Regions from separate parts of the Homo sapiens genome. Here regions 2, 3, 4 and 5 are each linked to region 1. The links come from fine-mapping of genetic effects on gene expression. A gene starts in region 1. Each other region holds a variant in brackets. All regions are shown on one strand. Distances are from middle to middle.

Evidence for each region. PIP is the estimated chance that this variant, and not a neighbour inherited with it, causes the effect. A credible set is the group of variants that fine-mapping cannot tell apart.
Region 2: its variant is the best candidate, but not a certain one, in a credible set for the expression of TMEM255B in fibroblasts (GTEx, PIP 0.59).
Region 3: its variant is the best candidate, but not a certain one, in a credible set for the expression of TMEM255B in fibroblasts (GTEx, PIP 0.67).
Region 4: its variant is the best candidate, but not a certain one, in a credible set for the expression of TMEM255B in prefrontal cortex (ROSMAP, PIP 0.62).
Region 5: its variant is the best candidate, but not a certain one, in a credible set for the expression of TMEM255B in minor salivary gland (GTEx, PIP 0.76).

The regions. Positions count from the first base shown.
Region 1 is chr13:113,756,994-113,762,120 of GRCh38, reverse strand. It overlaps TMEM255B (transmembrane protein 255B), which reads right to left and starts at 2,895. Exons shown (of 9, transcript NM_182614.4): 1 at 2,806-2,895. The coding sequence starts at 2,851. RefSeq lists enhancers at 2,176-2,677, 3,234-3,735.
Region 2 is chr13:113,807,855-113,812,981 of GRCh38, reverse strand. TMEM255B (transmembrane protein 255B) reads right to left here. Exons shown (of 9, transcript NM_182614.4): 9 at 1-1,246. The coding sequence ends at 1,079. Among named protein-coding and RNA genes, the nearest start is that of GAS6-AS1, 5.2 kb to the left of the region's middle. The variant G/A (reference allele first, on the strand shown) is at 2,281.
Region 3 is chr13:113,903,452-113,908,578 of GRCh38, reverse strand. The region is part of intron 3 of LINC00452 (long intergenic non-protein coding RNA 452); the gene reads right to left. Among named protein-coding and RNA genes, the nearest start is that of LINC00452, 11 kb to the right of the region's middle. The variant A/G (reference allele first, on the strand shown) is at 2,322.
Region 4 is chr13:113,656,258-113,661,257 of GRCh38, reverse strand. ATP4B (ATPase H+/K+ transporting subunit beta) reads left to right here and starts at 3,060. Exons shown (of 7, transcript NM_000705.4): 1 at 3,060-3,225. The coding sequence starts at 3,114. It also overlaps a transcript of GRK1 not described here. RefSeq lists an enhancer at 3,241-3,741. The variant G/C (reference allele first, on the strand shown) is at 2,056.
Region 5 is chr13:113,791,202-113,796,328 of GRCh38, reverse strand. TMEM255B (transmembrane protein 255B) reads right to left here. Exons shown (of 9, transcript NM_182614.4): 4 at 1,092-1,181. Among named protein-coding and RNA genes, the nearest start is that of GAS6-AS1, 22 kb to the left of the region's middle. The variant T/C (reference allele first, on the strand shown) is at 2,726.

The sequences.
Region 1 (5,127 bases):
GATTTTTTTTTTTTTCCTGTCCCGGAAATACTGTTATTACACGCACTGTGAAAATTAAAGTGCTCCTAAGTGCCCCAACTATTAATTAAAATATCTACCAATAGGTTTCTATTGCAGAGGCAGCTTACAGGGACTGGACCCAAACCATTCTGGGTCTGTCCAGACCCATTGTGTGGTCTTGGGCGGCCATTTAATCTCCCTGAGCCTGGGAGAAGAGAACCCTATGAGAGCCAAGAGCTCTGTCTCTTGTTTGTCGCCGGTTCCCGGGGCTCAGATGAGGACATAGACACATCTCCTGGTACGGAATGAATGAAGGCACTTCAGTCTCCTGACCTGTAGGATGGAAATCATGAGAACCACCTGCTCACCCACCTCTTGAGATTGTGATAAGCGTCCAGTGAGACACGATACGTGGGCTCTCATATAGGTTTTTGTAAATGGAATGCATATGCTAATCATCAGGGTGGTGTGAACTTTAAGACGGCGTAGCGGCTATTCTTAACCAGCATTTCTCCCACTGGAGTTGCAAGGAGGAGTTCTGAGATGTGAAGCTGAAGGGGCCAACAGCTACCTCTCTGCTATCAAGTGCGCTGATTTTTCTAATTCTAGTCTTCCCCAGGTGCAGCCCATCTAGGATATCTCAGAATATCACCTTGTCACTCCCCACCAGCCCCCACTTCTCCCATCCCACCTGCTCTCCCCTTCCTGGCTCCTTCCCCAGCCTTAGCTGGAGGAGCTGAACCACATGAGCCTGTGCCCACGCCAGGTCCTACCTGGAAGACACGCGAGGCTGGAGGTCAGGTTCTTCCTGCCCCTCAGACCCATTTCCTCTACTCCACAGAGCCAGGAAGGGGAATGTCACAAAGCATGGGAGGTGGCACTGCTTGGAAGGGTTCTAAGATCCGGCCTTCCTGCCAGCCGGACCTGGAACGCCCAAAAAGAAGAGTGAGTTCCATTTAATCATGTGGGGACACCAGTCATGGTGTCCAAGTAACAATCCCAGGTAAAACTGTAATCACTCAGCCGTCAATTCCTCTTTCGTCCTGATTTTACACATGCCCAGGGTAGTGAACAAAGAAGGGCAAAGCAGAAAAACCCATAATCCTACCCCCAGGTACCCCAAAGCAGAAAGACTATGGTCCACCCCCAGATACCCCAAAGCAGAAAAACCCACAATCTACCTCCAGACACACCAAAGCAGAAAGACCATAACCCACCCCCAGACACACCAAAGCAGAAAGACCATAATCCACCCCCAGGCACACCAAAGCAGAAAGACCATAATCCACCCCCAGATACCCCAAAGCAGAAAGACCATAACCCACCCCCGATACCCCAAAGCAGAAAGACCATAATCCACCCCCAGACACACCAAAGCAGAAAGACCATAATCCACCCCCAGATACCCCAAAGCAGAAAGACCATAATCCACCCCCAGATACCCCAAAGCAGAAAGACCATAACCCACCCCCAGATACCCCAAAGCAGAAAGACCATAATCCACCCCGACACACCAAAGCAGAAAGACCATAATCCAACCCCAGACACACCAATGCTTTATACATTTTAGTAAAAGACCAGCTCCAAACAAAAAGACCCATAATCCTACCCAGATACACCAATGTTTCATATACTAAAAAGACCAGCTCCAAGTATTGTTTTAAGGTTTAAAGTTCTTTGTCAGAAGAAAATCTAAGTCAGATGCTATTTTTAAACATTAAGGCATTCTAATAATGATAAAACTAGTTAATAAATAATAATAATAGTTATCATTATTAAACACCAATAGACTAATCCACATTAATACATTTGACCATAGAGCATTTTGCTTTAGATTGGAAGGCATATAGTGGTTTCTTTTAGAAAGAAGCCAAATTATTTGATTATTTTAAGTAACAGTAATTCGTCCGGTTCCGAACGATGCCGCAGTAAAAGGGTTGTGAGGTTAATCCCCAGAAGTTTGTGTTGGATTATTTCTGAGGGAGCGGCAGAGCCCCCTAGACACCACTCCATCCCTCCCTCCAGCCGTCAGGGCTTCACTTTCTAGGGAACTCTGTTTCTCTTTTGTTCTGAAATCTGCCCAGCCCTCTCCCCCTCAGGAAGACACCCGGCATCCTTCCAGTCCTGGCCACTTCCCGGCAGAGCCCCCGAGCCCGGCTTGCGAACTGGTGAACACGCAACAGGTTTCCTGTTTTCCCAGCCTTTGCCTGGCTCCGAGGCTGCAGCGGGCTTGGTCTGGGAAGTGGAAGAATTGGAGATTCCGTGAACACACCGGGGAGAAACACGAGAGAGGGGCGAGCCGAAACCAAGCAACACTGTCCAGTTCTGTGAGCGCCTCTGCACGTTCAAACAGGAAAAGGCTACCTCGCTCTTCCAAACGAAGTTTTCCCGGAAAATGGTGTAGGTTGGAATAAACGGAAGAGATGGGGAAGGAGCGCACTTTGGGGCGCCTGTTCCTCATAATAAAACGTAACAGGGAGAGAGAGGCCAAGAGGAACGGACACAGAGTCAGAGAAAGGCAAAGACTGAGGAGGCAGAGACAGAAAGAGCGAGAGAGACAGAGACAGAGACAGAGAGAGAGACAGGGAGAGAGAATGAATGAACGAACCGGTAGGACGAACGCCCGACCCCAGTGCGAAATGCAAAGTGTTCCAAAGACAGAGCTCGAAGGAGGCGGAGGGACCAGACCCCGTGCCGCGTCTCCGCGCAGGTTCCGCCCGGGCCGGCCGGGGACCTGTAGTCCCAGCCCCGGGGTCCCCACGCTCCCCCGCAGGAGCCGAGACGAGCCCCCAGCCCCGCGCTCACCTGCGGGGTCCAGCAGGCCCAGGGGCCCGGGCACCGGCGGCTGCATCCCGAGGCCCCACCCGGCTCTCCCGGGGCCACAGCCACAGTCCCGCCGCCAGGAGCCGCCCTCGCGGCGCCGCCCCTTCCCCGCCCCCTGCACCTCCCCGCGCTCCGCCCGCCTCGCGTCCTTCCTCGCTCTACTCTCCCTTCTCCGGCGTTTCTTCTCCTCCCTCCCCCGCTGCGCCCGCTCCCCCTTCTCCCCTCCAGCGGCCGCCTGGTTTCTGGAAATCAGGACGCCGCGGCCGGGAGTGGAAGCCAGACCCCAGATGGAAGGTGCCTGGAGAGGACCCTGCGGACTCGGGGTCGGAGCCCCGGCCTGGGACGGTGACCCCGGGCCTTCCGCCGCTGGCGCCACGCTCAGCCCTTGGCGGTGCCGCTGAGTGGGTCACCACGGGTTCGCCTCCCCATTGGCCGGTGACGGAGCTCCTTGGGGCTACAGGGCCAGCCAGCCCTTGATCTCTGGGTTCAGAGGGTGGTACATGGTGTTACAACCCAGTCTGCGAGGAACGAGTAAATGAGGAACAAACGCAAATGAGTAAATGAGGAACAAACGCATCTGGCACCTCACTCAGCAGCCCCGAGGCAGGGCTGACCCGCCTCTCCAAGGCCTGCGTCTTTGTGTCCACAGCACTGAAGTTGTTCTGAGTAAAATCTGCTGCTGGAAAGAAGGGCAAGGAAACACGGGGCCAGAAAGGGTGCCTCGTACAGCAGCAGGAAAAAATAAAGATCCTTCTAAACGTATTTTTAACATCTTTGAGTCAAGGACATCAGCGGTCCCGTCACAAAAGAAGATGCTTGAACGATCAATAAACTCAGCCCCCGGAATTAGGGGAACGCTGTGGGAACAAGAGGATGCGTTTCACCCTCATCCTATCAGAAAACCCCAAGGGTCAAACAACTTAAAGAATGTTAATGAAAACGTGGGAATCTGCATTCACCGCTGGGATCACGCATGGTGCCACCACTTTGAAAGCAACCTTTAGGAAAATTGAAGCAAGTAGATGACAAGCCAGAAAGAAAGCATATCTCTTTCTAGATATGCCCAAGAACACAAACATAGATCTGCTCCTTCGAGCCAGGAGCCGTGGTTCTCAACCCCGGCTGTCGTTAAAGTCATCCAGGAATGTCTTTAAAAGAAAAAACATTTCTGCAGCACTGAACCCAGACCAGATCAATTGAACCAGAACTTCTGGGAACAAACTAATAGCTAAGAATTCCCTAGTCATTCTAATAGGCCATCCACTGTGAGAGAGAAACTACCACAAGAAGTATGCATGTGCTAGAAGATGCGTACAGAATATTCCTCACAACACTGTGTGTCCAAAGCACCGGACACACCCTGAATATCCAACACGGGGAGAAGCGATAAAGAAATGGGCATATACAGCGAAATACCACATGGCAGTTAAAATAAATGAGAGCTACATGGATCAATGTGGATAAATGCCAAAAACAGAACGCGGAGCAAAAATGCAAGTGCACAGTACGGCAGCGAGTACGACAGCAAGTACGGCAGCGAGTATGGTACCATTTATATAAAGTTTTAAACCATGAAAATTAACACTGTTCACTCAGTGAGCCTCTCAAGACTTACTAAACATCCGCGATATACCAGACACTGTTCCAGGTACTTGGGATGTATCAATGAGCAACGTAAACAAGGATCCTGGTGGGGAAGTGAGGCCATGAATAATAATACAATAAACAAGAAAAATGCACAGCATGTCAGAGGGCAACATGCTATGGAATACACACACACATATACACATACACACATGCAGACATACACACATGCATGCACATACACACATACACACACATGCATATATACACATGCATACATACACACATGCATGCATGTGTGCATACATACATGCACGCATACATACATGCACATACACACATGCATACATGTGTGCATACATACACGCACACATACATACACATACATACACACATGCATACATACACACTTATACGTGCATACATGCACATATGCACATATACATACACACATGCATGCATACACACATGCACACACATACACATGCACACATACATGCACACACATGCACATACACACACATACACACTTATACATACACACACATACACACATACATACATACACAGCCAGGTAATGCAGGCCACAGAAAAAGGAAAGAGAGGTAAAGAAACAAAATAGAAAGTATAGTGTGGGAGAGGGAGGGAGCTGTGGTTTTTAAGTAGTGAAAAGAGAGCTTGTTGACAGGTGATGTTGAAGACCAAGCTTGAGGGCGTGGA
Region 2 (5,127 bases), 51 kb before region 1:
CCCGTGACCCACCCGGGGCCCGTGACCCACCCGGGACCCGTGACCCACCCGGGACCCGTGACTCACCCGGGGCCTGTGACTCACCCGGGGCCTGTGACCCACTCGGGACCTGTGACCCACCCGGGATGCCTGTGACCCACCCGGGACCTGTGACCCACTCAGGACCTGTGACCCACCTGAGACCTGTCCTGTGACCCACCCGGGGCCTGTGACCCACCCGGGACCTGCTGCTTCCCAGGCGTGCTCACCCGTCTCCCCAGGTGTGCCCGGCAGGTGCATGCTGGGCCCGCGGGGAGCTAAGCTGGTTTCCACAGGGAGTGCTGCGGCCCCAGACCCTGAGCCAAAGGACCCCGAAACACCGTCCCCCACCATCCCAGCGGCCAGGGGTCCTGAGACAAGGTGCGGTGAGGGAGAAGCCGCGGAAGGACAGCGGAAGCCCAGGCGCCGTAGCTGGGAGACAGCTCAGGGGAAGACCCTCGTGCCAGTGGCCCAGGCAGATTTGCATCCGGGGCTGGGAAAGACAACCGGGCCCCTGGATTCTAACAACTCACAGGCGGTTAGACACAGCGCTGGGCGTTGGAGCCGAAGCGTCCTTCCCTTCCTGGCATACGTCAGGAGCACAGCACGAGGGGCGGGTGGCTTCTGCCCTGCGCTTCTCCAGGACACAGATGCACACACGAACGTGTAACGCACAACACATGTCCACAAACAAGAACACACAGGCAGGGAGGCCGGGGCTGCACTGTCTTTGCAAAATCATAATAATAGCTAATTAATTAAGGGATGTGAAAACACCAGAACAATTGCTCTCAGAGGAGGAGGCCGGGTGGGAACTTTCAGCGCCATTTGATGTGAGCAGAGCCCAAGCCAAGGTGTCACCAGCCTGGGTCTGGAGGGCCCCACTCCCTGCCTGGTTCCAGCCTCCCTCACCAGTGTGCCCAGGGAGGAAAGGAGGGGACAGACTTCTGGAACATTCTCCCGGGTTCTCTAGGAGGTTGGCCACAGAAGCGGGATTTCTAGAGGCTGCCTTTTTTTTAAAAAAAAAAACAAACAAGTTATCTTTTACTCCACGCCTCTATCAGGGTGCGTAGGGGGGTGGCTTCTCCCCCGGGGGAAAGTAGGTGGGTGCGTAGCACGGTGGAGCCTGGCCGGGAAGCCCAGAGCCAGAGCTGCTTGGAGAAGGGGGCTGCAGGTCCTCAGACGAAGCCAGGGCAGAGGAGGGCGCAACTGGGAAGCGGCTGCAGGGCTGCAATAAACAGAGAGGGCCCTGGGTTAGCAGGTGAGACCACCCCGTGCCGGACCACAGGGAAGCCTGACATATACCAGGGCCACTCACACGCTCCCCACCCACCCCGCCAACCCAGGGCCACCCGCAGACTCAGGGCCATTCACATGGGCCCCCCGCAGACCCAGGGCTATTCACACAGGCCCCCTCAGACCTAGGGCCACTCACACAGGGCCCCCCGCAGACCCAGGGCTATTCACACGGGCCCCCCACAGACCCAGGGCTATTCACACGGGCTCCCACAGACCCAGGGCCACTCTCACGCCCCTCCCCTCCCCCGGAGACCCAGGGCCACTCTTACGTCCCCCTCCCCCACCGCAGACCCAGGACCTCTCTCACCGGCCCCCACCCCACAGACCCAGGACCACTCTCACCGGCCCCCCCACAGGCCCAGGCCCACTCTCACGGGCCCCCACAGACCCAGGACCACTGTCACGGGCCCCCACCCCACAGACCCAGGACCTCTCTCACCGGCCCCCCCCACAGATCCAGGACCTCTCTCACTGGCCCCCACCCCACAGACCCAGGACCACTCTCACGGGCCCCCACCCCACAGACCCAGGGCCACCAGAAGGAGCAGCCCCAGCCCGGGGCAGAACAGGAGAGGGTGGCCGGGGCCTCACTGGCACAACCTTGGCCTCCACAGCTGCATGGGGCAGGGGGTGGACGCCCCAGGAAGGGTGTCCTCAGACCACATCCCACTTCCTCACAGCCAGCGAGCCTCTGACCTGACTCCAAAACCAACAGTTAGGGTCCACCAGGCCTGGGGCCCCTGGGCTCACCCAACTCTTCATATTTGGGAAAGGCCCCACGTATGAACCCCACACGTCCACACGTCCAGCAGCGTGTGGCTGGTTCAGTGTCACCGTGGCTGACTCAGCGGCTCACACACGCATCTGGGTGTTGCCGTGGAGGCATCTTCAGGTGTGATTGACACCCTTGCGTACAGTGCCTCAGCCCCTGGACACGGACGGCCCCTCCTCTCCACTGAAGGC[G/A]TTAAGGAAAGAGGCTGTGGTCCCCAGGAGAAGTGGACTCTGCCCCAGTGGCCTAGGCACTCCCGGGGCAGCGTCACCCTCCCTGGTCTCCAGCCTGCCCCCTCCCTGTGGTTGTGCACCTGAAGCCCACAGTCATCAGCCAGTCATTCAGAATCGATGGATTGATCTCTCTCTTCATATGTAGGTACCTGTATTCTCCCATAGGCTCTGCTTCCCTAGAGAGCCCTGACTAACACACATAGACCCACCCAAGTAATTCTGAGACCAGAAAAGCGAAGAACGGCACAGATTTTAAATTGATACATTCTAGTTTTTCTCCAACTGCTAACACACATCTTAATTCTTTTCTTTTTTTCCCCTTAAATTCTAGGGGGAACTTCTAATCAAATTTTAAATAAATAAAGCAAACAAACTCCTTCTAAGAAATAACACAGGAAGAGTTTTTCAAACTCCAAGCTACCAGATGTGCTCTGTGCTCCTCTTGCCCCAGCCTGCAGGGTCCCATGAGAAGCCAGCTGCCTGTCTGAGCCTGCGTGTTCAGCATCCCCAGAGAAGCCAGCTGCCTGTCTGAGCCTCTCCCTGGAGAGCTCTGCACTGCAGACGCCCTGGGAGCTAGCAGGACCTCTGGATCCTGACAGCAGAATTTCTGCACAGGTGTAGGTAAGGCTGAGAATGGGGCCCTTCCTCAGAGGGACTGCAATGTTGAGGTTGACAGCCCAGGCTCATGGGATCCAGTGGTTCAGGGACACCTGCCAACCTCATTTCTTTCTTCCCCCGAAACTCACACAGGTTTCTGGCCACAGGCGACAGAGTGAGACACTAGGGAACATTCTCTCAAGTCTGCTGGGAGCTCCCAACTTCCAACTCTGTAGCACCCACTCTTCTTCACAGCAGATGAGCAGTTAAGGAAACTAAGGGGTAAACCCCAGGACCACAGATAAACCCCAGGAACCCATGGAGTAACTCCCTAGGAACCACCGAGTGAACCATGGAGTAAAACTCAGGAACCACGGAGTAAACCCCCAGGAACCACGGAGTAAAACTCAGGAACCACGGAGTAAACCCCCAGGAACCATGGAGTAAACTCTCAGGAACCACGGAGTAAACCCCTCCCCCCAGGAACCACAGAGTAACCCCTCCCCCCAGGAACCACAGAGTTAAACCCCCGGGAACCATGGAGTAAACCCCCAGGAACCACAGAGTAAACCCCCAGGAACCAGAGTTAAACCCCCAGGAACCACAGAGTAAACCCCCAGGAACCACAGCATAAATCCCCAAGAACCATGGAGTAAACATCCAGGAACCACAGAGTAAACTCCCAGGAACCACAGAGTAACCCCTCCCCCCAGGAACCACAGAGTTAAACCCCCGGGAACCATGGAGTAAACCCCCAGGAACCACAGAGTAAACCCCCAGGAACCAGAGTTAAACCCCCAGGAACCACAGAGTAAACCCCCAGGAACCACAGCATAAATCCCCAAGAACCATGGAGTAAACCCCCAGGACCATGGAGTAAACATCCAGGAACCACAGAGTAAACTCCCAGGAACCACAGAGTAACCCCTCCCCCCAGGAACCACAGAGTTAAGCCCCCGGGAACCATGGAGTAAACCCCCAGGAACCACAGAGTAAACCCCCAGGAAACACAGCATAACCTCCCCCCAAAAACCACAGAGTAAACCCCGAGGAACCATGGAGTAAAGCCCCAGGAACCAGAGTAATCTCCCCAGGAACCACAGAGGTAAACCCCCAGAAACCACAGCATAAATCCCCAAGAACCACAGAGTAAACCCCCAGGAACCATGGAGCAAACCCCCAGGAACCACAGCATAAATCCCCAAGAACCAAGGAGTAAACCCCCAGGAACCACGGAGTAAACCCCCAGGAAACATGGAGTAACCCCCCCCCCAGGAACCACAGAGTTACACCGCCAGAAACCACAGAGTTAAACCCCAAAGAACCACGGAGTAAACCCCCAGGAACCACAGAACAAACCCCTAGGAGCCACGAAGTAAACCCCCAGTAACCACAGAGTTAAACCCTCAGGAATCACAGAGTAACCACCCAGGAACCACGGAATAAATACCCCTGGAACCATGGAGTAAACTCCCAGGAACCACGGAGTAAACACCCCAGGAACCATGGAGTAAACCCCCCAGGACCACAAAGTAAACCCCCAGGAACATGGAGTAAACCGCCAGGAACCATGGAATAAACCCCCAGGAACCACAGAGTAAACCCTGGGACCACGGGGTTAACCACTGAATGACAGGGCCCCCCTAGGGACAAGCCCTGCCCACGAGTAATCTCACAGGGGAAGGGAGGGCATGTTTCTTAGTAACGGGGCAGGAACTCATCTTCTGCTGTGATGCCACGTCCTCCCCTGCACTTCATGCCTGGCAAAGCTGCTGGGTGCAAGGAAGGTGATCTCTTTAAATTGTCCTTTTTATTAACTGCTCAAAACCTCCCCCACCAAGTCACTGTTCCCCATCCCCCACTGTCTCAAGTGGGAGTATTTTCTGCTGCTAACGACTTCCATGGAACACCCTGAATATTTTCTCTCCATCTCTGTGGAAGCAGGGCCCCTCCTCCATTGTTCTTCTGAGGAGCACATGAGCCTCATCTGATTTGCCATCTCTGAAATCCAATTATCAGCGTGCGTATATTAAGCTCCCACACATGCTGGCCTGGCACAAAGGCTGGCTGGGCCATCTGAGGGCCCCAGGCCTCCCCAGAGGAAGAGGGGAACATCCACCCTTTGCGTAAACCCAGAGCCCCAGGGTGGATGAGGATGGAGCACCATGGGGATGAAGTGGATCTGCCCCTGTGCCCCCCACGTCCCGTAAG
Region 3 (5,127 bases), 150 kb before region 1:
CCTGGCTGTACATCGAAAGCCATGAATCTCCCTGCTGAAGACAGGCTGCCTCTCCCTGGAGGCTTCCCATCTGTTTTTGCCCAACACATTTCCACAACCCTTTAGACTTAGAGATAACCAAGAGAGAAGAAAGGTGGGGGAGGAGGAGGAAAGTCTTCTGCATTCCTGGGCCCCACCAGGCCAGCAGATCCTCCCGGTGGGAGCAGAAGTGGGGGTGGGGAGGCTCAAAGAGCAGCACCTGCAGGGGCAGGTGCCGCTGACACCCAGGGAGCCCGACAGGACCCTGCCCTGAGCCCAGCTGTCCCAGAAACCACCTGGACTTCAGCCAAGCGCAGTCCCTGTAAGGTATTTAATGGCATATCCAATCCACGAAGCACCGAAAGGCTCCCTGGCTTCCTCCTACCGGGACTTGAGAACTTCTTCAGCCACAGAAGCAACTCAGGCTCCCCAAATCTATCAAAGAAGACCACAGGGACGTCTGCACCATGCACAAATTGAGAGGAGCCTCCTGACCCTGAACGTGAAACACCCGCACCCTCAGCCCAAAAACAGGGGGCTTCTCCAGCTCAGGGCTGCAGCAGGAGACCGTCTGTAGCCACAGGTCCTCTAGAAGCTCTACCAGTGCAGCAAGAGCAATCAGCAAATAAACAAAGTGTGCAGTATTTGAAAGAAAGAAAAAGAAACTATCACCACCTGCAGATGACACATCCAAGCGTCTCTTTGTGCCAGGCCCTGTATACATTTTCCAGCCACTCTGTCTCATTCCACACACATTTTGCAGAGAATCGGGACCTGCCCAAGGCTTACGTCTTACAGATGCTACTCCTGGAATGCAAACGCAGGTCTGGCTGATTCCAGAGTCAGAACTTCAAGCCAAAAAACTTTCCCAAACACCCCAAAGGATGGACTCAAAGTTAGTAAAATTAAGAGAGGAAATTACAATGATGGTGAGTAAAATCAATATAGAAATCCAATAGCATTCCCAGATGCTAGCAATAACCACCTCGCAAGCAAGAGTGAGGGGGAGCCTGTTCGAAATAACAACCCAGCATCTTAAATACCCAGGACTTGTTAGGCCAAGAGATGAGTACAAAATTTATATTGAAGAAACAACAAATTTTGTAAGGAACTATAGGAAAAAATTGGGTCAGTTGAGAGATGTCAGCATGATACCAAAGGCAGAAACCAGAGATGGGAGGACCGGTAAGTCTGAGAGCATAAAAATATAAAACCCACCATGTACACATTTGTAAAGCAAACAGAAATATAAAACTCCACTAAGGGACATGAAAAAGCAGGTGACTAGATGCAGAAACATGCTGAACACTTAGGAGCCCTTTTATTTGTTGAAATATTTTCAAATAAGTGAAAAAATCAGGTAAAGCAGGAAATTGACAATGATACATATACATCTCAAATGCTTCCTTTTAACTTAAAATATATGAGTCTGAATTGATTTGATTCTTGTGAGAACATCTCTGTGAGGTCTGCTCTTTGAATTTGTTTTTTCCTGGCAAAAAGAAAAGAAATTTTAAAAATCTTATAATTCATCACTCATGGTTTTACGCTTTATTTCCTTAAATTAAGGCAAGAATTAAAGATGCTGTCATGGTGATCTGAGGGCAGAATCCCTTTGAATGTCATCTTCCTCCAATTTTTACAGCTTTCTTGCATATATTTGGTTTTGCAGCATTAAAAACACTTTGCCAGTTTGTCTCCACCAAGCCTTCCTGAGCGCTCTCCCACTCTGCAGTCCTGGCCCATTCCCAAGAGGCAGAGATGCATGCAGAGGGCACCAGCGGGCCTGGCAGCCACCCTTGGCTCTGCTGAGCCTTAGCTGTGGGAGAGGCCACCTGGGCCCCCGGCTCTGGATGTGTGTGGAGGGATGGAGGGTGCAGGCTGGCCTGGCATGTCGGCTATGTGTGGCCAACCAGAAGAGCTTGGCACCACCCTTGACAGGAAAACTCAATATTTGATTCCCTAATTCCTCCCCTAGGAATTTTTCCTAATGGAACTCAGTGCCCACTTCATAGTAGTGGTTATCTCTGCATAAATTTTATTTCCTTCTTTGTGTTTTCCTGTATTTTTCAAATGGTCTGCAATCTACACGGATTACTTTTATAATTAGAAAAAAATTAATTGTAAAAACATTGTTTGAAGTTTAAAGAGTGCCATCTTGGTTACTACTCAAATCTTTATACTGTCCTTACGTTTTTCAGTGTTAACCCAAACTGTGACGCCCATCTCCCTAGGACACATCATAGGAAGGCCTGCTTCAGTGAGAATGCACTCGAGATAGGAAATTACCCGTGTTGATAAGC[A/G]GGGCCTGCCTATGTTTTTAAATTTCAGGCTCCCTAATAAAAGGAGTAGGATAAAATGCCAGCATGCTGACATTTCAGGACACTGCCGTCCGGCGGGGGACTGCGCACAGCGCTGCCCACTCTGTTCTGACCCCCACTGTCCTCTGACTCCTCCTGGGTTGTCCTGCCATGTTCCCATGGGGAAGGTGTCACACCCAGTGCCAGTGGGTGATGATCAGAGGGGATATGACAGGGCTCTAGGTGGTACCTGGATGGATATTTTTTAAAATAGTTACTAATTTATTTTAGTGTGCTGTAGAAAAAACCAGGCAGCACAATGGACCTTCAATCTCACACAGATGTATTTAAATGTATTTAAATGTAAACATATTTTACATTTAAATGTATTTAATGAGTCTATTGAAGATGCCCTAGGTAGACAATAATTCAGAGCACATGGATATGGCAAAACTTTGAAATCTGCACACAGAAGGGTGCAATTTGGGAAACTGTCATATGAAATCGCACTTGGGCTGCACATTACGAACACGGCAGGTCGTATCTGTGTGTTTTCATTGCTTTTAAATCTCTTTTAGCAGCTCATTCTGTGCAGGCACCGGTTCTGATTTACTTAAGAAGATGGTCTTAACTTCCCTTTGATGGGTATCGTCATCCTTTCTCTTAGTTGGTTTCAGTATTATTGCAATAGGATATACTGAAGTTTTGAATAATTTATTAAACGAATCTTTACTTCCTAGATACAACTATCTTGACTTTTTTCTAAGTACTACACTTTTGAAGTAAAATAAAGCCTCACCTCAACAACAGAAGTGGGGTCCAGAACATCCCGTGGGTAGGATGTGGGAGCTTTCCTGCAAGGTCGAGTGGCCCCTGCTGGGACCCTACCTCTGGCTTAAACTGTGACGGAAAGATTCTGGGTATTGTGGTTGCCTGGAGCTTCCACGATTCAGCAAGGATTCCAGGACTGTCCTGGGGAGTAGCTGCCGTTTAATTAGCCTGACAGAGAGATCGCTCCTGGAGAAGCCTGTAGACGCAGGACTCCTGCCTTGTTGAAGGATCAGATGTAGCAAGTGAAGAGGGAAGGTGAGGAGGCTGCCAGGCAGCCGGTCAGTGGGTGCCGCTTAAGAGAAAGTGTTGGCCAGGACTGCAGGGGCAAGAACCAGGACACAGGCCTTTGATTTGTTACCTGAAGGGCCTGCTGGGGCTCGGATGCAGGTTGGTGACAGACTCAAACTTGCCATAACCTTTTCCTCAATGTATCCTCATTCCAAAAGTCTAGGGGATTAATTCCAAAATAGTTAGATAGCCCCCTTGTATTTCTTCGTGGGTGTTTTTATGATCCTTCCTCTTTCTTTATCACCTTAAAGCCTGACAAGCAGATGCCTGGGGATGGGGCTGGGGTGATGAAACCTTTTAGCATTGCTTGGGATGAGGCTTGCTGCCTGTGAAATCAATGCCAAGATGCGCTTTGAGTAAGGAAACTTTCTGGAATTAACCTTTGAGTTATTTATTTCCATGTTGCTGATAAGGGCTTGAAAGTTCTGTCTGGGTTGCAAACACGGCCCTGATTGCTTATTAACTGCGTGATCTCCTACAGGTCACTGATTCTTCTCAAGCCTCGGTTTCTTTATTTGTAGCTTGAGGCAGTGACACCTGCCTCATGGGGTCGCTGTGAGACAGAGTGAGGCCTCTCTGCCCACATGCGCTGCAGCATCCGGCACACTGTGTGCTCAGTAGGCAGAGACTGTCATCCTTCTTGTTACAACAACCACCACAGTTGTCCCTGGTATTTGCCAGTGTATTAGTCCATTCTCACACTGCTAAGAAAGACCTAAACGAGACTGGGTAATTTATAAAGAAAAAGAGGTTTAATGGACTCACAGTTCCACATGGCTGGGGAGGCCTCACAATCATGGTGGAAGGCAAAGGAGGAGCAAAGACACATCTTACAGGGCGGCAGGTGACAGAGTGTATGCAGGGGAACTGCCCTTTATAAAACCATCGGATTGTGTGAGACTTATTCACTATCACAACAACAGCACGGGAGAAACCCGCCCCTATAATTCAATTACCTCCCACCAGGTCCCTCCCACAACACGTGGGGATTATGGAACCTACAATTCAAGGTGAGATTTGGGTGGGGACACAGCCAAACCCTATCAGCCAGTGAGACTTTGGGACCCACCCTTCCAGGCTGCGGCTCCCTCACTCTCATCCTCACGCACTTCTGCGGTGCCTGAGCTGCAGTCACCGTGGTAACTGGGATTGACCTTTTAAAGTATCTGTTATAACTACAAGCTTAGTGTCAAAATACTATTAACCTGTTTTGCCTTTACAGACTTATTTTTAAAATAGTGTGAATTCAGTTGTGTTTGATTAGCAGCTTTTCACTGGAGTTGCCGCCCAGCGCAGCGAGGGGTCTTCTGCAGGCCTCGCTGCCTCTGCACTCCTGTGCCTCCAACGGAGCAGCCATTAGTTGGACCAGGCTGGTCTTATTCTCCAGCTTCCTCATTATTTGGGGTGAGTTCCTCACAGCCTCCTGTTAGTTCTCCTGATTTTGTGTATTCTTATTCTCATGTTGCCCATGTTTGGCCTAAGAGAAGGCGCCTCTTGGCCGGCTTCCTGGAGGACTCTTGCTTTCTTGCATGCCACAGCAGTGACAGCTCCGGCAAGGCCCTCCTGGTAAAGTCATTGGCAGATCCCTGTCTTTGAAAGTGTTCATATTTGGAAGAAAATGAGTCCAAAGCTGCGAATGTCCGTCCTCCTGCCAGAGAGGCAGACAGCTGAGTGCTATTGTTTGGGAATC
Region 4 (5,000 bases), 100 kb after region 1:
TTTTGACTCATGAGTATTAGAAGTATGTTGTTCAGGTTTCATATTTGGAGGTTTTTCTGTTATCTTTGTTATTAATATCTAATTTGATTCCATTGTGATTGGAGAACATACTCTGTATGATTTGAATTCTTTAAATTTGCTAAGACTTCCTTTATGGCCCAAGATACAGCTTATCTTGATATATATTTCATGGGGACTTAAAGAGAATGTGTATTCTCTGTTGAGTATTCTGCGAATGTCAATGACATCCTGTTGGTTGATGATGTTGAGTTCTTCCGTATCCATGCTAATTTTCTATTTGGTTGTTCTATCAATTGTTAAGAGAGGAGTGTTGAGATCTCCAACTATAATTGTGGATGTGTTTATGTCTACTTTTAGTTCTATCAGTTTGCTTTCCATATTTTGCAGCTTTCTAGTTTTTCATTTGTTTCAGGCTTGTTTGTAATTGCTATTCAAGCATTTTTATCATGGCTGCTTTAAAATTTTTGGCAGCTAATCCTAACATCTCTGTCACCTTGGTGTTGGCATATATTGTCTTTTTAAATTCATTTTTAGAATTTTTTAATTTTTTAGCAGAGATGCCCAGGCTGGTCTGGAACTCCTGGTCTAAAACGATCCTCTCAGTCCAGCCTCCCAAAGCTCTGGGATAACAGGCATGAGCCAAAACACCCAGCTTTGTATTAATTCATCTTAAAATCGTCCTCGTTCTTTGTGTGATGAGTGGTTATCTACTGAAACCCAGACGTTTTCATATTATTTAATCCTTCTCTTTTTACTGGCTTTCTCTGACCCCACTTCAGCAGCAAAAGGGAGAGGCTTCACCTTGTTAACACCATGTGGGGCCAGAAGTCTAGGTTTCCCACTGGGAACCTTTGGGTGGGCTCCTGAGGACTGTTGGGTGGGTGGGTAGCAGTCCTGGCTTTCCATATGGTCTCCACTGACACCACAGTGGGAGGTGGCCTTGTCACTGTGTGGTGGTCACAGTCCTAACTTTCTACTACGTTGTGTCTGACACCACTCAGATGGGGGGAGAGAGGGGTGACCGGTGGCTGCCAGATGTGGGTGGGATTCTGGGCCCCCCTCATTGTCTGGCACCCAATTTGTATAGAGCACCTAGTTCTATGTTTTCAGAGCATGCTGTGGGGAAACTGCCCTCTACCAAGGTCTCTGGCCCTCCTCCCCACACGTATGTGTCCAGAAGAAGGTCATTCTGATAACATGTGTACAGCTCAGCACATGTACCTGCTTCTGGAAATTCAGAGACTACATTAGGAAGACTAAATTCAAAGATGTTTAGAAATAATTCATACTTTGTTCATTTCAAGAGCATCTATACCCTTCACAGACAACAGTTGCTGCATCCAGGTGTTGTCAGACCCCTGGCACTCTGGGGTCCCAGGGCCACAGTCTGTGAACAATCAGACTGTGGCCTTTACTGCCAGACCCTGTGTTCTTATCGCCCTAACATTCCAAAGTCAGAAATGGGTACAATGTTAAAGGAAGGATAGGTCCATTAAGAAATTATGGCTGGGCGCAGGGGCTCACGCTTGTAATCCTAACACTTTGGGAGGCCGAGGTGGGAGGATCCCTTGAACTCAGGAGTTCTAAACCAGTCTGGGCAACATAGGGAGACCCCATCTCTACAAAAAAATAAAAGAAATAAAAATTAGAAATTAAAAAAAAGAAAAGAAATGATAGGAATCCAGGCTAAAATGACATCATTCCATTTGAATTTTAGGGCAATTATTTTGCAAACTCTAAATTATCCTAAAAAATTAAAGCAGCGTAATGCCTAGAGGAATTTTGTTTCTTCTAAGAAATGAATTTGGTTACACGGGTCCCTGAGAGGGACGGCCTAGAGTTGACAGTATGGGAAACTCTGCATGTAATTCTGGACACACAGGGCTAGTCGACTTCGAATCATATTTGTCAGAAGGCCCCTGAGCACATTTCATTTGCCCTGCATTCCCATCAACCTCCTGCAGAGATGGGCACTGCAGCCAGCAGGCAGCAATGGCATCTGCCATCCAGGACCCCTGTCTCCAACAGCAAAGC[G/C]TCTGAGCCGGGGTTCTGAAGTGCGCCGCCCAACAAGACTGCCTGGGAGCCCTCCACGTCCTGGTGCTCGGACCCATGGGCGAGAGGCTCAGGCAGAATCTCCGGGCGGAAGTGGGCAGTGATGACTTCATGGTCCCTGCCCCGGCCCTGTGACCCCAGTGCACTGCCCGGACCCCCGGTGACCCCGAGGTACTGCCCAGGCTGAGCATCCCCCACCTGGACCCTGCCTTACTCCCTCCCACCAGCACTGTTAGAAATGCAGTCTGGGGCCCCCACAGGACTCGCTGGGCTGAATCTGCATTCAACAGATGCTCAGGGCTCCTGTGCACTTCATTTTGAGGACCACTAGATTTAGGGGTTTGTGTTTATGAATTCCTCCATGGACACAAAAAAATCCTAAAGGGCCCTCGGTGCCACTGCCCTCTGGGGATCTAAGAGGCTATTGCTGCTCTGGGTGAATCTGGGAGGCAGAGGAGTCCCCGGGGACCCCTGTGTTCCCTGCCAACCCAGCTCCAGCTGCCAGGCTCACCCTTCCACTGGGTGACCCAGAATCGGGGCGGCCGCAGCGGGGGGCCCAGGGAGCCGGTCGCCCCTCACTCGCCTGCCTCACGCCCTCCCAGGCCAGGGATGCGGCCCCAGCTGGCTCAGCCCAAGGTCGTGGACACAGTGGGTCCAGGCCGGCTCTGCTCTGACCTCAATCTCCCTCCTGAAGGAGAGGAGGGAAGGGGAAGGGCCTGTGAGTGCTGCTCACCCCGGAACGTGCCCTCACCGCAATCAGAGCAGACAAAGCTGCAGCCAAGGGCGTCCCAAGAGCAGCAGGGTGAGGAAAGCGGGCCTGGCCCGCCCCAGGGGCAACAGCCGGGCTGCACCCAGCCCCTGGTGTTTGGTGAGGCGATGGCCGGCGCTGATAAACGGCCCTGGCCTCTCCCTGGGATCCTTCGCCTGCGATGCCTTTGACCTCTGGCAGAGGAAACTATAAAGCCCAGAGGTGGGCATCTGGCCTCAGTCTGGGCGTAGAGGGTGCAGGGAGCAGACGGGAGGATCTCAGGCCAGGGACGATGGCGGCTCTGCAGGAGAAGAAGACGTGTGGCCAGCGCATGGAGGAGTTCCAGCGTTACTGCTGGAACCCGGACACGGGGCAGATGCTGGGCCGCACCCTGTCCCGGTGGGGTACGTGCGGGGGGCGGGCCGGCTGGGTGCATGGAGGGGGCCGCTCTGAGGACGCAGCCTCCAGGTGAGCTCAGGAGGAGGGGAGCAGAGGGCCCCTGACAGTGAGACCCCGATGCTGCCTGGATGGCGTGGACGGGCTTCGGCCAGGGCCTCACTTGCCTCCCAGGGAAAGCGAGGGTCCCCAGAGCATCCTGAAGGCTGAGTTGACCTGGAGCCCCAGCTGCAGAACGCCGGTGGAGGGCGTCCACAGACTGGCCCCAAATGTCAGCCGTATGTCTGAGAACAGCATTTTAAAAGTATGTTTCTAAAGTGAATCATTTTGAAAATAACGTGAAAGGTGGCAACGGTGATTCCTTGGTCACACAGATTCACGCAATGACCTGAATAAGGGGCTCTGCCGAGACGCGGCTGCCAGCCCCTTTCCGGGACACCCGCTGGCGTCCAGATGCGGAGGTGGGGAGTAAACCAGGCCTGCCTCAGCCTGCAGCACCTGCGCCTTGTGCGAGGTCTGCCCTGCAGGGTCCTGTCCCCGTGGCTGCACAGAGGCGCGGGCAGCCTGGCCCTCCTGGGAGGAAAGCAGATGCCTGGGCCTCCAAGGCCACACAGGTGGTGGAAGCGTCTGCGTCTACATCAGGGCTGCCACACCCGTTCCGGGAAACGCCCTCACCCCTTATGAGAGAGTCTGGAGGAAGCACCTGTGCGCCCCCACCTCCCCCTGCGACCCCTGGGCGTCGGGATGCGGCTGAACTGGCTGGCCTGGTGCCGTCCCCGGCTCCCAGGGAAGGTCAGGCCCTCCTCAATTCCCACGGTGCCCGGCTCTGGGGGTCCCAGAGCCGAGGTGGGAATGCAAAGCCCCAGGCCCGCCCCACCTGTGTGTGTAGCTGAGACGTGCTGGGAATGCCCGTGACACGCTGCCAAATCCCCCACACTCACCACAGTGCTGGTGAAGGCTGCAGCCCCCGCTGGAGGCTCCACGGTCTCAAAGGGCACCAGAGCCAGCTGGAGTCATGGGCGCATTTGAAGTAGAACAAATACCCCGTTCCTAGAGAGGCAGGGACCGGGGGCAGAAGGGCCTCCTGGGCCAGGCGGGGCGGCAGAGCGGGAGGCCAGGATGGGGAAGGAGCTGAGGGCGGGGGCTGGGCTGGGGGCTGCCGGCCAGGTCCTTGGAAGCCCCATCTTTTGGGCCATTCTAGATGCTGAGACTCCCATGTGCCGCCTCCTGGCTGCAGGGCCACAGAGAACCTTCTGGAATGGTCTCACTGCCTGGCCGGTAGACATGGCCTCCGTTTGGGATAAGAAAGTCTTAGGGCCCCAGGAAAACACAACTCAAGTGAAATGACAAAAACAAAAGGAATAGGACACGTTATTCTTACTAATTGGGGGACGGGTGCAGGTGCAGGAGAGGCAGAGTGAGCTGCACCCGGCCGGCCCCAGGAGCTGGCGGGAATGGGACTCTCAGTCACCTCCCAACCCCTCCCCTGTGCACTGCAGCGTGCCCTGAACACCGTGGTGCAAGCGGGGGCCCAGGAAGTGCAGGGAGCATGGCCCTCCCGAGCCTGGGCCCAGCCTGGCCAACCTCGGGCTCCTACCCGGGAGGCAGGGCTGAGCCGCCTGGTGGAGCTGAGACTCGCCACAGAGTGGGTCAGCAGCCACTGGGGAGACACGCACCGCCCACATCTCCACTGTGCACCACGGGCCCCAGAGCAGACCCACAGGACCCACAGCGGGGGAACAGAGACCCCTGCCGTCACGAGCGTAGGTCCCCGGGGGACAGG
Region 5 (5,127 bases), 34 kb before region 1:
GTGTGGTGTGTGAGGTGTGTACTCTGTGTGGTGTGTGAGGCGTGTGCTCTGTGTGGTGTGTGAGGTGTGTACTCTGTGGTGTGTGCTATGTGCTCTGTTGTGTGTGTGCTGTGTGCTCTGTGTGTTGTGTGCTGTGTGCTCTGTGTGTTGTGTGGTGTGTGCTATGTGCTCTGTTGTGTGTGTGCTGTGTGCTCTGTGTGTTGTGTGCTGTGTGCTCTGTGTGTTGTGTGGTGTGTGCTGTGTGCTCTGTTGTGTGTGTGCTGTGTGCTCTGTGTGTTGTGTGCTGTGTGCTCTGTTATGGTGTGTGTGCTGTGTGCTCTGTGTGTTGTGTGCTGTGTGCTCTGTTGTGTGTGTGCTGTGTGCTCTGTTGTGTATGTGCTGTGTGCTCTGTGTGTTGTGTGGTGTGTGCTGTGTGCTGTGTTGTGTGTGTGCTGTGTGCTCTGTGTGTTGTGTGCTGTGTACTCTTATGGTGTGTGTGCTGTGTGCTCTGTGTGTTGTGTGGTGTGTGCTATGTGCTCTGTTTTGGTGTGTGTGCTGTGTGCTCTGTTGTGTGTGTGCTGTGTGCTCTGTTGTGTGTGTGCTGTGTGCTCTGTGTGTTGTGTGGTGTGTGCTATGTGCTCTGTTTTGGTGTGTGTGCTGTGTGCTCTGTGTGTTGTGTGCTGTGTGCTCTGTTGTGTGTGTGCTGTGTGCTCTGTGTGTTGTGTGGTGTGTGGTGTGTGCTGTGTGCTCTGTTGTGGTGTGTGTGCTGTGTGCTCTGTGTGTTGTGTGGTGTGTGCTGTGTTGTGTGTGTGCTGTGTGCTCTGTGTGTTGTGTGCTGTGTGCTCTGTTGTGGTGTGTGTGCTCTGTGCTCTGTTGTGGTGTGTGCTGTGTGCTCTGTGTGTTGTGTGGTGTGTGTAGTCTGTGTGGAGAGGGAAGTTCGTTGTGTAGGAAATGAGACTTACTGAGAGGAGAGACAGTCACTGGCAACCCCCAGCGTGGAGACTGACGGTGAAGCCGTCTGAGCTGAGATCTGCAAAATGAAATTGTACTTTTTTCACGTCGACTCTTTCAGCCCCGGAAAGCGACTGTGCACACAATGACAATGTACTCACAATGTGCTGTGCTGCAAATACGCCGTCCACGATGGCGCAGCAGAAGGCGGCCACCACGCCAAAACTGATAAACACGATCGCTGCCACCAGCTGCAACAGAAGGAGAGGTGTGGGTGCCCAGCTTTTACCAACCCCGGTTTTCAAACGCAAACCAATTCAAAGTCCCAGCTCGAGGTCGGGGCTTCTTTCACAGAACTGCCTCTTCTCACCTCTACCTTTCGTCCTATGACTTCCAGCCCTGGCCAGGCCGGACTCCACCCTGCGGGTCGTCCTCACGCGTCTATTCCGCAAGACCCACCCAGGCGCCTTCTGCACGGAAGGGCGTTGCCATCCCCGGGCCCTCGGCACGCGCCTCTGAGAAGCAACCCCAGACGGCAGGGCGTGTGCCCAACCCTAATGTGTGCTCATCACACGCACACACATGTGCATGCTTGACACAGGCCTTTACAGTCATCGGATCAGCTTCACACACTGTCGCACAACCTGCTTTTCCTACCTAATGGTCTTGGAGCTTGGAGCCAGGAATGGTTTATAGTGCGTTAGTTAACCAGTGCACTCTGATGGATAGTTAAACAGTTGGCAATTTCTTGCCACTACAAACTCTGCTATAAAGCGGGGTGTCCTGCCCTAACCCTAAAAACTAGCAGGGAGTCTCCATCCCCGTGGACCCCTGACCAGAGGGCGGGTGCTGTCATTCTTTTCTCGGTGCCTGGCTTGGTACCACGCTGGGCAGAGCAGACCCTCCTGAATGGCCGCTGAAAACTGTGGCCCCGAGTTGGCATCTCGCTTGGTTCCGTCCCGATGGATGAGTTGTCGGCTCGGGAAAGAGGTCCCAGTGACAAGCAGAACCCATCGGTAACAGCAGAGGGAGGGCCTGTGGCTCGGGCACATGGTGCTACACAGGGACAGGGGAAGCCTGAGTCTGTTCGGACCTGTCCTGCGCACCAGGCACGAGCGTGGGTGCTCGTCCAGACTCAGAGCAGAGCCGACCGAGCAGAGTGGTCTCCTCCTCACACTTGCAAAGACGCCCGGCAGAGGCACCCCGACCTTCCTTCTCCCTGGGGAGCCAAGTATGTGGAGAGAGGAGTTCCATCGACCGTGACCCTCACGTGGAACTGCTGTGGCCTCTTCCCCCGATGTCAGCATGGCCCTGTGTGTCCATCTCTGCCCCAGGCTGCACACCTATCGTCACCCGCAACCCAAAGAGAAGCCAAATCCAGCCCATCTGCCAAGGCTCTAACGCTACCCGCTGGATTCGCAGGTGGGACGCATTCCCATCAGGCCCCACAGCAGCAGAAGGCGGGGGGTGGGGGCTGGCGGGCCCAAACCTTTCAGGCCATGGACCAGTGGTGGCCGCCTGCCCCTCCCTCTCCTTCTGACCCTCCACACCACAGGCCCGCTGGGGGTCCTCCCTGGAAGCCCCATCAGAGCCGGTCCAGGGCGCACCACGCTGCTGGCCAAGCCCTTTTGCGGAGGAAAGTGCAGCTTCTTTTTTAAACAGTGGGCACCCTCACTGCGAGTCTGGGTGTTTTTATCCTTCAGCAGAGGAAGAGCTGTCAACTGGGGGCTTCCTGGTGAGCCCACGCTTGGCAGTCACCGATGCCACCTTGCATTAAATGTGAGTGATGAGGCGG[T/C]AGGGCTGGGGCAGCGGGCCGGAGAGCGAGTCCACAGAAGTCAGTGCGTCCTTGGGTGGGTCCCAGACCGGCACGGTCCCTGCGTGAGTCACAGAGAGATGGTTCTCCCACCTGCTGGCACCTTTCTTCTCAGGTGGGTCCCAGACCGGCACGGTCCCTGCGTGAGTTACAGAGAGATGGTTCTCCCACCTGCTGGCACCTTCTTCTAAGGCAACTTTCCTCCACAGCAGATCAGACGAGACATTCTGAGAGCTCAGACATCAAGCACGTGCCCTTCCAAAATACATACTTTAGGTTTACGAGAAGAGGTAGGTCTGAACAAAGTCCGGGCAGTTAGCAGGAAGCTGGCCGACACCCCTGAGCTCTGTCTCCCAGTGGCTGTGCGAGGGGGCAGAGGGGGACGTGGCCACCAGACCCAAGGGCAGCACAAGGGTTCTCGGGGTGGCCTTGGACCGGAGCCCTTACCCTCGCATCCCCCCTCCACCTCCCCAGGCAGAGCAGAGCAGAGCTGGCAAGCTGAGTCCTTCCAGAGCGTTCTCTGAACTGCTGGGCTGGACTTGCCCCTAGTGGTCCTTGGTTCCCCCTCTGGAAAGGGAGGTGCTGGGTTCACTGACTTATTCATGAGTGTCACGGACGCTCCAGCGTCCCCACGGGATACGCAGCCTGGTGCTGCAGGCGCAGACATGAGCAAAACAGGCACCTCCCCGCCCTTCCCGCGTCTCACGTTTCTGGCATTTTATCATCGATTGCCTAAAAGAAAGTTGAGATGCTCCCAGAAGAAAGCTGTGCAGAAAACCATGGCTGCATTAGCCTGGGTCTGAACCAAAAGCTTACTTCTATTTGGACTTTCTACAGGCTGTGGCAATTTAAAAATCTCCTCTTCTGCCTAATTGCTCTGGTTCGACTGACTAAATAATGACGGAGCCCATCGCATGGTGTAGCTGCCCAGTGTGCTGGAGGAACAGACAGATGAGGGAGGTTCCCTCTTGAACAGCTGACCCCGTCTGACGGCCACCATAGCAAAGCATAAGCCAGGGCTCTGGGTGCACACACAAGGAAGGCCTCATTGCACCCTGAGAAAGAAGGAAGGCCTGAACGAGTCCTGGAAGAATAAACAGAATTTCCTCAAGGGGAGACAGGGAAGGTGCTGGGGGCTGCACGTCGGTGGGACTGGGGCCCACTGAGGTGGGGCAGAGGCCACGATGTGCAGGGCTAGGGGTGAGCTGCAGCCACCATGTTACGGTCAGAAGGTCGTCAATGCCAAGGTTGTGTGGCCGAAGGCAAGAGACTTCCTTCACCTTCCTATTTTCCTGATGAAACTGCTGCATAAAAGTAAAATGACTATTATGCAGAGCTGTGTAAAAACAGCGGGCAGAAATTACACCTAACTGAAATTTCCTACATTCAGTTAGGTATAAATACGTAAAATACATTAAAAATGTAATTGTTTGAACAAATACATAAAAACACACACAGACGGCTCAGAGGGCAACATTTGAGGTTTCCCAGTCGGGGCCAAGCCCCTCCACCTTCCCAGAGGAAGATGAAAGCCGGCCTCCAGCGGGGCCGCGTCCCCAGCTCTGGGGCCTCCCGCAGTTCCGGGGGATGTTCCTGTCCCGCAGTGCACCCTTCTCGTGGGTGCCGGCCTGGATCAGGGGGCTGCGTGCCTCGCTCTAGCATTGCAGGGAGAGCGGCGTCACATCCCATCATGCCTGCAGACATGCTTCCAGCATTAGATGCAAGCACGCAGAGGGGCCGTGGTCCCGTCACCACTGCACACGCTCCTTAAGAACTCCCACAGTTTCTGTTGGGCACAATTCCCAACCAAAGAGGCAGAAGGAAAAAAGACTTAAAGATGAAGAAAATCACTTTAAAGCTTCCAAAGTTCTTTCGCTCGACCCATCCTTCTAATCCGCACAACTGTGACATCATCATCACAATTTGCATTTTGCAGGTGCGGCTCTAAGGACTTGGGGCTCTAAACATCTTTCGCTCAGACAGCGCCTCAGCTCAGGAGCACAAGCACCCCTTCCCTGCTCCTGGTTGAGTCACCACCCTCAGAGCCACTGGTGTCCCCAAGGGGACATCTGTCCACACGACGTCGCTCCCACAGATCCCTGAGGGGTGTGTGACCAGTGTGGTCCCCCAGATTCGTTGGGGCTGCCCAACGTTAGGAAGCCCACATCTGCCTAGTGGGAGCCGAAGCCATCCCAGGAGGATCCAGCGTCCCTGTCCGGCTCGGCGGCCGGCAGGTGCCACCCGCTAGATGCCCCGGCCACTTTCAGAAGTGGGTGGCAGGTGACTCATCCAGGCTCTGCTGGGTCTCTCACCGTAAATGCGTGCAGCAGAGACTCTGCCAGGATGTGCTGGCCCTAGATGTTCACCTTCCAACCCAGTAACCC